Linked DNA regions of Homo sapiens: region 2 is linked to region 1. The links come from fine-mapping of genetic effects on gene expression. A gene starts in region 1. The other region holds a variant in brackets. All regions are shown on one strand. Distances are from middle to middle. Region 1 holds the start of RGS7BP (regulator of G protein signaling 7 binding protein). Region 2 overlaps RGS7BP (regulator of G protein signaling 7 binding protein).

Evidence for each region. PIP is the estimated chance that this variant, and not a neighbour inherited with it, causes the effect. A credible set is the group of variants that fine-mapping cannot tell apart.
Region 2: its variant is the best candidate, but not a certain one, in a credible set for the expression of RGS7BP in nasal epithelium (TOPMed, PIP 0.62).

What each region holds. Positions count from the first base shown.
Region 1 is chr5:64,503,409-64,508,788 of GRCh38, forward strand. RGS7BP (regulator of G protein signaling 7 binding protein) reads left to right here and starts at 2,607. Exons shown (of 6, transcript NM_001029875.3): 1 at 2,607-3,381; 2 at 4,303-4,469. The coding sequence starts at 3,217.
Region 2 is chr5:64,533,222-64,538,601 of GRCh38, forward strand. The region is part of intron 2 of RGS7BP (regulator of G protein signaling 7 binding protein); the gene reads left to right. Among named protein-coding and RNA genes, the nearest start is that of RGS7BP, 30 kb to the left of the region's middle. The variant G/C (reference allele first, on the strand shown) is at 2,747.

The DNA.
Region 1 (5,380 bases):
AATGACACAGCACTCAGGAAAGAGCTTTTCTTACTATTACCAGTCTATTCTAAAGAATACAACTCAGGAGCGGCCAACTCAGGCATGTCTGTGGAACTACTCAGAAGTCTGCACTACAGCCTGGGAAACAGAGTGAGACTCCGTAGAATGAACGAATGAACAAAAGAATGAAAGAAAGAGAGAGAGAAGGAAGAGAGAGAGGAAGGAAGGAAGGAAAAAAGGAAGGAAGGAAGGAAGGAAGGAAGGAAGGAAGGAGGGAAGGAAGGAAGGAAAAAAAGGAGGGAGGGAGGAAGGGAGGGGAGGTAATTGAGATTGCAGGAAAGAGAAAGGGTCAGGGAGCTGACTAAGCACTAACCTGTTATCTTCTTATATTTGGGGAGATTCAACCAGCAGAAGAGCCCTTTCTCTCAGTCTCTGGGACATCTAAACACCTGGAGGATAGCAGCACACCAAGGTCTGGGCCTGAGAGCTGATGCCTCCTTTCTCTAGTCTTTGATAGGGAAAACTCACTCTCAAGCTTGTGTGAAGTTCTGGTCAGGCGCAGTGGCTCACACCTGTAATCCCAGCACTTTGGCAGGTGAAGGTGTGTGGATTACTTGAGCTCAGGAGTTCAAGACCAGCCTGGGCAACATGGCAAAACTCTGTCTTTACAAAATATTAGGTGGCATGTGCCTGTAGTCTCAACTACTTGGGAGGCTGAAGTGGGAGGATCACCTGAGCCCAGGAAGTTGAGGCTGAAGTGAGCTCTCATGGTGTCACTAAATTCCAATCTGGGTGACGGAGCAAGACCCTGACTCAGAAAAAAAAAAAATGTAGCCAAATATCCACTCAGTGATCCATCTGTTAGGTTTTTTTTCCTTCCCACCCAAATACATGATGTCTTTTCCAATAGCACTTCTCCAACTCTCTAACACCAATTAGGTGGCCTACAACTCATTTCTGGCACTAACTACCCAGAGTTAACGTCAGATTTACAGGTTTAAGGGCTCAGTCCCACAAGACTGCCCTCATCTCAGAGGCCAGTCACAAGTATGGGATCCACAGGTTACCAACTCTTCTCTCCATCTTGGCGACAAATTCAGGGGTTCCTATAACCACCTTCTCAGATTTGGTAATTCACTAGAATGACTCACAGCACTCAGGAAAGAGCTTTACTTACTATTAGCAGTCTATTCTAAAGGATACAACTGAGGAGCAGCCAACTGGAAGAGAAACATAGGGCAAGGTATGGGAAAAGGACATGGAACTTCCATGCTCTTTCCTGGTGTACCACCCTTCCAGCACCTAGATGTCTTCCACAACCCAGAAGCTCCCCACACTCTATTGTTGTTTAGGAGTTTTACAGAGGTTTCTTTATGTAGGCATGATTGATTAAATAATTGGCCATTGGTGAGGAACGCAGTCACTAGCTCCTCTCCTATCCCCTGAGATTGGGGGATGAGGCTGAAAGTTGCAAGCAACTAATCAAGGCTTGGTCTTTCTGGTGACAAGATGGCTTATCATAATAACTCAGGCAATTTCTAAGGGTTTTAGGAGTTCTGCCCTAGGGACTGGGGACAAAGACCAAATAACTCTCTTATTATAGTACCCCATTATATTTACTTGTCTTGTAGAAAAGGTTGTAAAGCCACCCTCCTTAGGATATTAACCTTCCTGGCTATTTCAGGCTTTCTCTTTCTATGTACTCTCCATATCCCTTTAACAGACTGACCAGGAACCTCTAATCTGTTCTTATTAGGATTACTAATACATAACTAGTTTTCCTATGGGAGACCCCTTTATCTCCCTCTCCAAACAAATCATTCAGGAGAACAAGCATCCTTAGAGCCTTAGAGTTGAATGCCACAACACTCTCTCTTCCTCCCAGAAGAACCTTAGGAAGATGTCAGTGGGAAGGGTGAACTTAAATGGCTGAGGGCCTCACCCCCACTCCTTTCACACAAGAATCATCCCCGATTTTCTGGGCCACCTCTGTTGGCCTCTGGGTTACTGATATCCCATAAGTGAGAAGAAGGTCATTTTGAGTGTCCAGGGAGATCTCTTGGCTCTTATTTGTTCAAGTCTCCGGAAGGGAACTCTAGGAGCTGAGTCCTGAGACCCTGCAATGCAAGACCAAGAGCTTTACTACTTGAAATGGGATGGGGATGAGGCCCAATCTGAGTGAATGCCTCTGTGCATTCTGCCTCACTGGCTCTCCTCTTTCCCCCTCCATGAACAAGGACAAAATAAAAACAAAACAACTCAGGGAAACAAAGCTCTCCTTTTAGGTTATCAAGAGGTCTTCCATTTGGAGCAAAACCTCACTCCCTCCTGTGGCCCCTGTCTCAGTCTCAGTTGGTGAGGGCCTCAAGCCCACACTGGCTTATTTGAAATCCATGTTTAGGTCCCAGCATGTGGCATGTGCTCCACTCTGATGACACTTTTCGTTTCTAATAATAGAGCAGATGAAGTAATATTGCAATTGATGTTCCCGGGGATTTGATTGGATAAGTGCATAAACTGTGGAGGGGGAAGGGGGTTGCATGGACAGATCACATTAGTATTCCCGTCCTATCAATGTGCGGGCCCGCGAACAACGTCAGCCGGACCGATTCTCTGCGTCTGCCAGTCCCGCCACAGATTCATCTGGGATCTTCAAACAGACAAGCCCTTAGAGACGAGGGATCAAGGCAGCCGATTAGAGCCAATTGCTTGCTTTGGGGACGGCCAGTCCTTCCAGGCCTGGCGACAGTGGAGGGAGGGGAAAGACGAACCGAGTGCCGCTGCGGGAAGACACTGAAGCAAGAGCGACACCCCTTTCCGCCCCCCACCTTGCAGCGCAGGCTTTGAAAGCTGCTCCCCCACCTGAATGGAAACTCGGAACCGCCGGGCGGCGCGTTCCTTCTCGCCCAGCCTTGCAATCCATGCCGAGAGGAAGGCAGTGCGAGCCCGCGCCAGCGCCCAGCTCCCGGGACAGGGTCGGCAATGCTGCTGAGCAGAACTTGATCGCGCTCCTTCCTCGCTGCTAGTGGAAGCGATGCTGCACGGCACAGCTAGCGCTTCCCCGGCTCTCCTTCAAGCTGAAGGTTACCGACCCGCGCAGCCAGCCCCAGCACTGTGAGCTGCGCGCCTCAGGTCCGGGCTCCGGCTGCTTGGCGGCGGCGCCCAGGGCAACAACCGGGCCGCCCGCGCCGGGGCGCACTGCACCAGCGGCTTCGGCTTGGTGGATGTGTATGCATGAGTTCTGCACCGAATGGGCGCAAAAAGCGCCCCAGCCGGTCCACCCGCTCCTCGATCTTCCAGATCAGCAAGCCCCCGCTGCAGAGCGGAGATTGGGAGCGCAGGGGCAGCGGCTCCGAGAGCGCCCACAAAACCCAACGAGCCCTGGACGACTGCAAGATGGTGGGTGAAAACTGCGCCTCTTTTTTTTTTTTTTTAATTGAGAGGGGGTGGGGGGAGTCATGTATGTTAATCATTTGCCTGAGTGCCAGCCACTCCCCCACCCTCAGCTCCTCAATGCCGATCACGTGGCACATGCACTATTTTTAAATCTGCAGTCCCCCAAATTCAGGGTGACACCCTGGTCGTAATAACCCTGCAGAAAGAAGTGTGACAGCAAGGGTCTTGGGGATCAGCGGCTGTAGGTTGTGCCTGTACCCCCTCGAAGAATGGTGGATGCGAAAGACACAGTGAACTGGCTCGCTCACGGAGGAGGGAGGGATGAGGAGGTGGGGATGCTGCTTTCTGGGGACAGAGTAGCAAACAAACCCAAATACAGCGCACGGGGCGCTGCGGAGGGGTCGAAGGTTCCAGCGCAGAGGCTGTAGCTGGTCTTCCCGTCAGGCCGTCAGGCCGAGAGGTTCAGTGGCCCAGCAAAAGGTGAATGGTTTGCCTATTACACCCTACCTGTCGCCTCCCCCGCCCCTCCCGCCGTGCAACTTAAAAGCCATGTCCTAGCAGTAGGAGAGGGGACCGTCTATGTAGGAGTCCCCAGCATCATTCTCTGTTGGCCTGGGAGTGGCATGGTAGCGCTCCAAATATGCTCTCTTGCTCTTCAGAAACTGAGTCTGAAAGGGTGAGGGGAAGTAGGTCTGGAAATAGAGCTTCCATGGCCAGGCTTGCCTATGGAAATAAATACTTGCCTTGGACAAAGAGACTTGCCATTTTGGTGCCTTCTGCTTTAAACAATTCCTAGGTTCCTTAGCTGGAGATCTGGGGAGCTGACTCAGGGGTCAGTGAAAGCCCCTGTTTATGTACTCCGAAACAGGAAACTTTCTGATGAGAAATGTTTGGTAAAAAAAAAAAAACTCACTTCTTTTCCAGCTTGTCCAAGAGTTCAACACACAAGTGGCCCTGTACCGAGAGCTGGTCATTTCTATTGGGGATGTCTCGGTCAGCTGCCCCTCACTCCGGGCGGAAATGCACAAGACAAGAACCAAAGGCTGTGAAATGGCCCGTCAGGCACACCAAAAATTGGCTGCCATCTCAGGGTAGGAGACTCGGCATTATTTGGTAATCCATATACATGATGCATGGATGCTGACAGAATTTTATGGTAGTCAAGTCCTCAGACATGATCTCCACATATTTGAGATTTTAACCTTAAGATCGAAATTCTCTAGAGAGCTATACACAAACTATAGGCCAAACCATAATTTGAAGGCTGTGTCATTCTTGCATATATGTATATATATTTAGAAGATTTGGATCAAATGATTTTTTAAAAACTTAATTTTCAATACTCTGGCCACATTCTGGAATTTGGAGCATAAGATTTGGGGTGGATGGCTGGACATCAAACTGAAGTTAAATCATCTTGCCTCAAAATTATTTTGTCATCTGCTGCTGAACAAAAGGCCTGTGCTGTAGAGAAAAACTCTTTCCCAAATCCCAGATTTACTAAACTATTTATACCATGAGATAAATTCCTATGATACCGCCTAAAATAAAATCCCTAAAATAAGGTCTTAGATATAAATTACTCTCTTCACTGTGGTGATAGGAAGGGGTAAGTTTTAGCATAAGAACAGTTTTTAAAGATTGGGGAAATTCACATATCTCAATAAACCTAACATGATTTTGTCCCCCAAATTTTTATTTATTTTCATCAGATTTATCGTTTTTCTAGCCTGTATTAGGAGATAATTCAGTATGTGAAAACTTCTCTCTTGGGACCCTACCTACACTTTCTTTCATCTCTTAATATTGGGGAAAAAGTTAGCCATGGATTTTGTTAACAGTTCCTATTTTCAAGATAAGTACTTAGAGCAAGGAAACACAGGAATCCTTATACAAATACATCAATACATTAATTTAAGTGCTTTGTTCAGTCTGGATATAGTATTTACCTGTTTATCTATGTGAGTATAGCTTTATCGCAGCAGAAGTTCAAATTAGACTC
Region 2 (5,380 bases), 30 kb after region 1:
CCTGAAACATCTAGAGCTGAGAGAGACTGATGTGGTTGGTGATACTCAAACTCAGCCAGAATGAGTTAGGCCCTGTCCCTGTCTATACTAATGAATAAGAAGCTTTGAAGACTCTAATGCTAGATCTTCAGGTAAATGGCTCTATTTCCCAGACTACATGAGCTTTGGAAAGCATATTTCATGAGTTCCATAAATATCTCCCAGAACACGAGTTCTTAAGTTTTTCTGCATACTAAAATCACCTGTAAATCTTTAAAACTCCTAATGCTCAGGCCACGACCCACATCAATTGGGACCACCTGGGGGGTGGGATCGAAGCCCTGCCCCTGAGGTGATCCCAATGGACAAAAAAAGTTATGAACCCCTGCCCTAGAAAGTGGCAGGATGAGGAATTAAACATAAAGATCATCACCTCATATTTTTCTTCCATAAATAAAGTATGTACAAGAGACCCAGATTTTAACAACAATTTCACATACATTCAAAGCTTTATGCCTCTTTGTATTTTGATACAGTGAAGTAAAACTCCGTTAGAAGTTTAAACGTTATGCCAACCTTCTCCCTCCCCACCTCATGTCTATTTCTAAGCTACAACTATTTATTCTACAATTATTCCTTCAACAAAGATGTATTGAGTACCTACTATGTACCAGGCACTGGGGATACCCCAGGAAATAAAGCAGACATGACTTACACTTGTGAAATTTATTTCTGCCAGAGGGGACATATGATAAATAAGAAAGCAAATAAATAAACAAGATTATTACAAAAGTGGGATGTGTATAAGGACAGTAATAGAAAAAGGATAATATGAGAGCAAGTGTGCTGCATCTGTGGGTGGAGGAAAAGAGCAGCTGATTCAGGTACCCAGGAAAGTCCTTTTTGGGAAGATGACATTTGGGGTGAGATCTGAATGGTAAAGGAGCCAGCCATGCGAAGATCTGGGGCAGAGCATGCCAGGCAGAAGGAGGAGTGAATGCAAAGACCCTGAGGCAGGAACGAACTTGGCTAGTTCCAGAGCCTGACAGACTGGAGTGTGGTGAGAGGCAGGAAAGCAGGACAAGACAAGGTCAGGAAGGAGTTAGCAACCAGCCTGTCAGGGCCTCGCTAGGTCACAAGAAAGAGTGGATTTGATTTAAAATGCAGTGAAAAGCCACTGGAGGATGAGATTTATGTTTTTAAGATGTGTAAGAAAAGACTGTACAGGGCAATAGAGGAATTCGTCCCTTGGGTAATAGTTGCTTGTTTTAGAGGTAAGCAACTGTTTAGAGGTAAGACCAGCAGAATTTGCAGAAGGGTTGCAGCTTGGAGGGGCAGTGATGAGGATGAGGGAAAGGGGAGAATCAGAAACAAGTCGGTCTGAGTAACTGATTTGATGGTGGTGCTGTGCCATGAAACAGGGAGGTCTAGGTGAGGTACCCTTTGGCAGATGAGAGAGCAAAAAATCAAAAGCTGTGTTTGAACATAATAACTTGGTGATTCCTTTCAGCATCCATTAATACCCATTAAAAGATAATGTCCATTAGGACAAATCTGGAGCTCAAAAGAAAGGTCAGGGCTATAAATTTAAATATGGAAGGCACTGGCATAGAGGTGGTATTTAAAACTTTCGGACTGGATGAGTTCATGTAGGGAGATGATGTAGATAGAAAACAAAGGAGAGCTAGGGGCTGGGCACTGAGGTGCTCTCTTAAAACCTAGGAAGAAAAGGAAGATCCAGCAAAGGCGACTGAGTAGGGGCCAGGGATTTAGGGTGATAGGGCCCTGGGTGTCAAGAGAAAAACTGTCTCAGATGGAAGGTGAGACAGTTTTGCCAATGCTGCTGAAATGTCCAGTAAGATAAGGACAGAGGGACCAGTGAATTTTGTGAGAGAGGTTCTTGGTGACCTTGACATGAGCAGCCAGAGGAGCACTGGGAACAGAAGTCTGGATTGGAGGGCTGAAGAGAAAGTGAGATGTGAGGACGTGGAGGCAGTGGCTATTGGCCCATCTACCAAGAGCTTCTGCTCTTCATGGAAACATGTACTTATTCCCTATCCTGATCTAGACCTCTGAATATACAGATCTATTAAAGTATGCACATTTTTCTTCTTAAAGAACAAGTGTATACACTAGATGCCTGATCTCAGCTTAAATATACTCAGTGCATCCCGTGTTTGACCTAATGGCTACAAGAAACTTGAAACATGAATGAATGCTAAGGAGAGGATTAGCTCTGCTCTCACCCCATGCAGGAATAACTTCTGGAAAGATGCTCCCTCCCAGCCCCACCTCTTCAGCTAACCATCATAAATAATCAAAGAGAAAAATATATGATCCCCTTAAAATGCCTATAAAGAAAGAAAGAAAGGTTGATTATTAAATGACAGGAAAGGTTATCCAACATAGAGAGCTTCAATTTTAAGTAGCACAAAGTAACACTTTCTCACATTCCTATTCAACTTAAAACCTGAATAAATTCAAATAGCTTTTAGCTGAACTAGATTTTCACTCTCCTTCCATAGCAGACAGGAAGACATACATCCTCCTTTATGGAGATTAAATGGTCCTGCCAATATCTTTTAGATTATGACCTCAAGAAGCAACGGAATATTTGGCCAGTTATTGTCAAAGGAGCAGCTTAATATCAGCTTTGAAAAAGGTAAAAATCTACTTTATTGGAAGAAAGTCTTGGGAATCAAAATGGGTAACACAGAAAGTCTTGAAAAGACTTAGTTGTCTGGGGTGTCTATGTAGACAAGCCCTT[G/C]GGGGTACAATTGTGATGGAAATAAATTACTCTACAGGTGCCAATTTAAGTCTGTATTTTGCACAGAAGGATAATTTGTCACTCTCAAAGTCAAAATACAGTAGTCTTGCCCTGTGTAGCAGGACTTTCAGAACTGAAGTCCAGAAGTCTCTTTGGGTAGGTAATATCCTCATTAAACATCAAGGAACAGACAAAAAGTAGCTCATGATATTGGGGCAGGGCTGAGTTTGAAGACAGAAGCCCATAGCCGTACCAGTAAAGGGAAGATATTTCTGATTTCTGTAGACAAACTTCAACTGGGAGCAAGAGCTTGTGAGTACAGTGAGGAAGTGGAGAGCATATGGGAAATTCTGAGAGGGACTATGTGAGAAATCCAATGAGCATCAGATATCTCAGGTCAGGGAGCATAAAGAAAAAGAAATTATGTTAACTAGGGTGATTATGTTCCTTATGGTGTTTATTGTCGCACGCGTTCACAATAAAAAATCCAAATACCTTTAGTAACAGTAATAGTTGTTCTTATAGGATGAAAATCTTCATCCTATTTACATGTATCCCTGCAATTCAGTGTGCAAATCACAGACATTACTTTCAAAACAAAATGTATCAATAACATAGAATACCTACATTTCAGGTGCTAAAGGTATTCTTTTAACTGACCTTCACTTACGTGAGTCACTGGATTAAGGGAAACTTTCCATTCCCTCTGTGAAACCTATTGACTAATGCCTTGTTTAGCAAGCTACTTCTAGTACCAGATATGGACTTCTGACCCACCCATTCAGTTGTATGCTTACCAAGAGTCAGCTATGCTGGTTTCCAAACCTGTTTTTGCCACATTTTGATTAGGTGATTTGATGAAATAGGAGGGAAAAAAGAGCTGTTAACATAAAAATTAATTTGATGAGCTAGTAAGAAAAAAAAATGCTATCAAATTTGGTGTGGCCAAGGTAACTATAAAAGACTGTGACAAATAATCATAAAATTCCAGAATGATTCTGCACTAGGTGTGCATTGCAAGTATCTTCAAGTTTCTTCTAGACTTTAAAGAAATTAAAACTGGAAATTGGAGATGATGTTTTATGTGTCGCTTCTCAGCCTTTTGGCTAAGATCAAGTGGAGATGATGTATAATGAGTATGGTTCTTGCCAGATGAAGAACTCCAACCAGTGGATTCATACTCAAAGAGAAGGTCTTAGTCCAGGGGTGTCCAATCTTTTGGCTTCCCTGGGCCATGTTGAAAGAATTCTCTTGGGCCACACACAAAATATTAACACTAATGATAGCTGATGAGCTAAAAATAAAAATCGCAAAAATAAATCTCATAATGTTTTAAGAAAGTTTACAAATTTGTGTTGGGCCACATTCAAAGCCTTCCTGGGTCACTTGTAGCCCTTGTCCGCGGGTTACAAGCTTGGTTTAGGCTATCACCAGAAGACTGGTAGGTCAATGTATAATTATGTGTCTCAATTTAAAATAAGTTTAAGATATATAGTTAGCGTTGAATTTTTAACCACCCAATTACCTGTCTTGGTAAACTGGGTAGGAGAGTTTTTACTGTACCTGCTAGGGATGTTCACTTTGGGCTCTCTAAGCTTTACCTCTCCCCAGAAACTTGGCTAAAATCATGGTATTCAAGAGAAAGAGCCTAGGAATGTGAGTTTCTCTAAGTTCTATTCCTGGATCAAGACAGAGCCCCAGAAAGCTACATCATGGACCATTTTGCTTTAGATTATGATAGAAATTCCTTCACAGAGACATGATTTTAGTGTTAGACTCTTGACTTTCATTGATGATCCAGGGAAGAGTCTGTCATATGAAGAATATCTCTGCCTGCTCTGCTATGCTGCTAAAAGCATTCCATTATGCTATTCAAAGCCTGATAAATGAAGATCCATATGACAAACTTCTCTTAGTGCTAAAAATCTGCAGGCAGCCACATGGGAACACTGGGAAGAGTGGAAAAGACAGGAAAGAAAGAGGAAAGAACTCATAACCCTAGACAGAACTAATGTTTCATCCAAGTAAATAGAAAGCTCTTTTTTTAACCTCTTCTTTAACTTGTTTTCTTATGGATTTATGAATTTTAAAGTTGATAAACCTAAGAAGTATGCATTATTTTACCTACTTAGTGGAAACCATATACATAGCTAATTTTAATTAATATTATTATCAAAGATATGAATGCTTTTATAAAACAATCTTTAACTTTTTTCTGTCTCCCTAATTTTAAAAATTGGCTTAACTTACACACAATAAAATTCATTTTTTGTTGTACATTTCTATGAGTTTTGACAAATGTGTAGAGTTGTATAACCACTACCAACATCAAGATACAGAAGAGTTCCATCACCCCCAAAACATTCTCTCATGTTGCCACTTCATAGTCAATCCCTTCCCCTTTTCATAGCCCCGGCAAACTCTGATCTGTATTTTGTTCCTACTATTTTGTCTTTGTTTTGCCTTTGTTTTGTCTTTGTCAAAATATCATCTAAGCTAAATCAGAAGCATGTAGCCATTTTTTTTCCTTTTCTTTTCTTTTTTTTTTTCCTTTTCTTTTCTTTTTTTTTTTCCTTTTCTTTTTTTTTTTTTTTTTTTTTTTTTTTTGAGACAGACTCCTGCTCTGTCACCCAG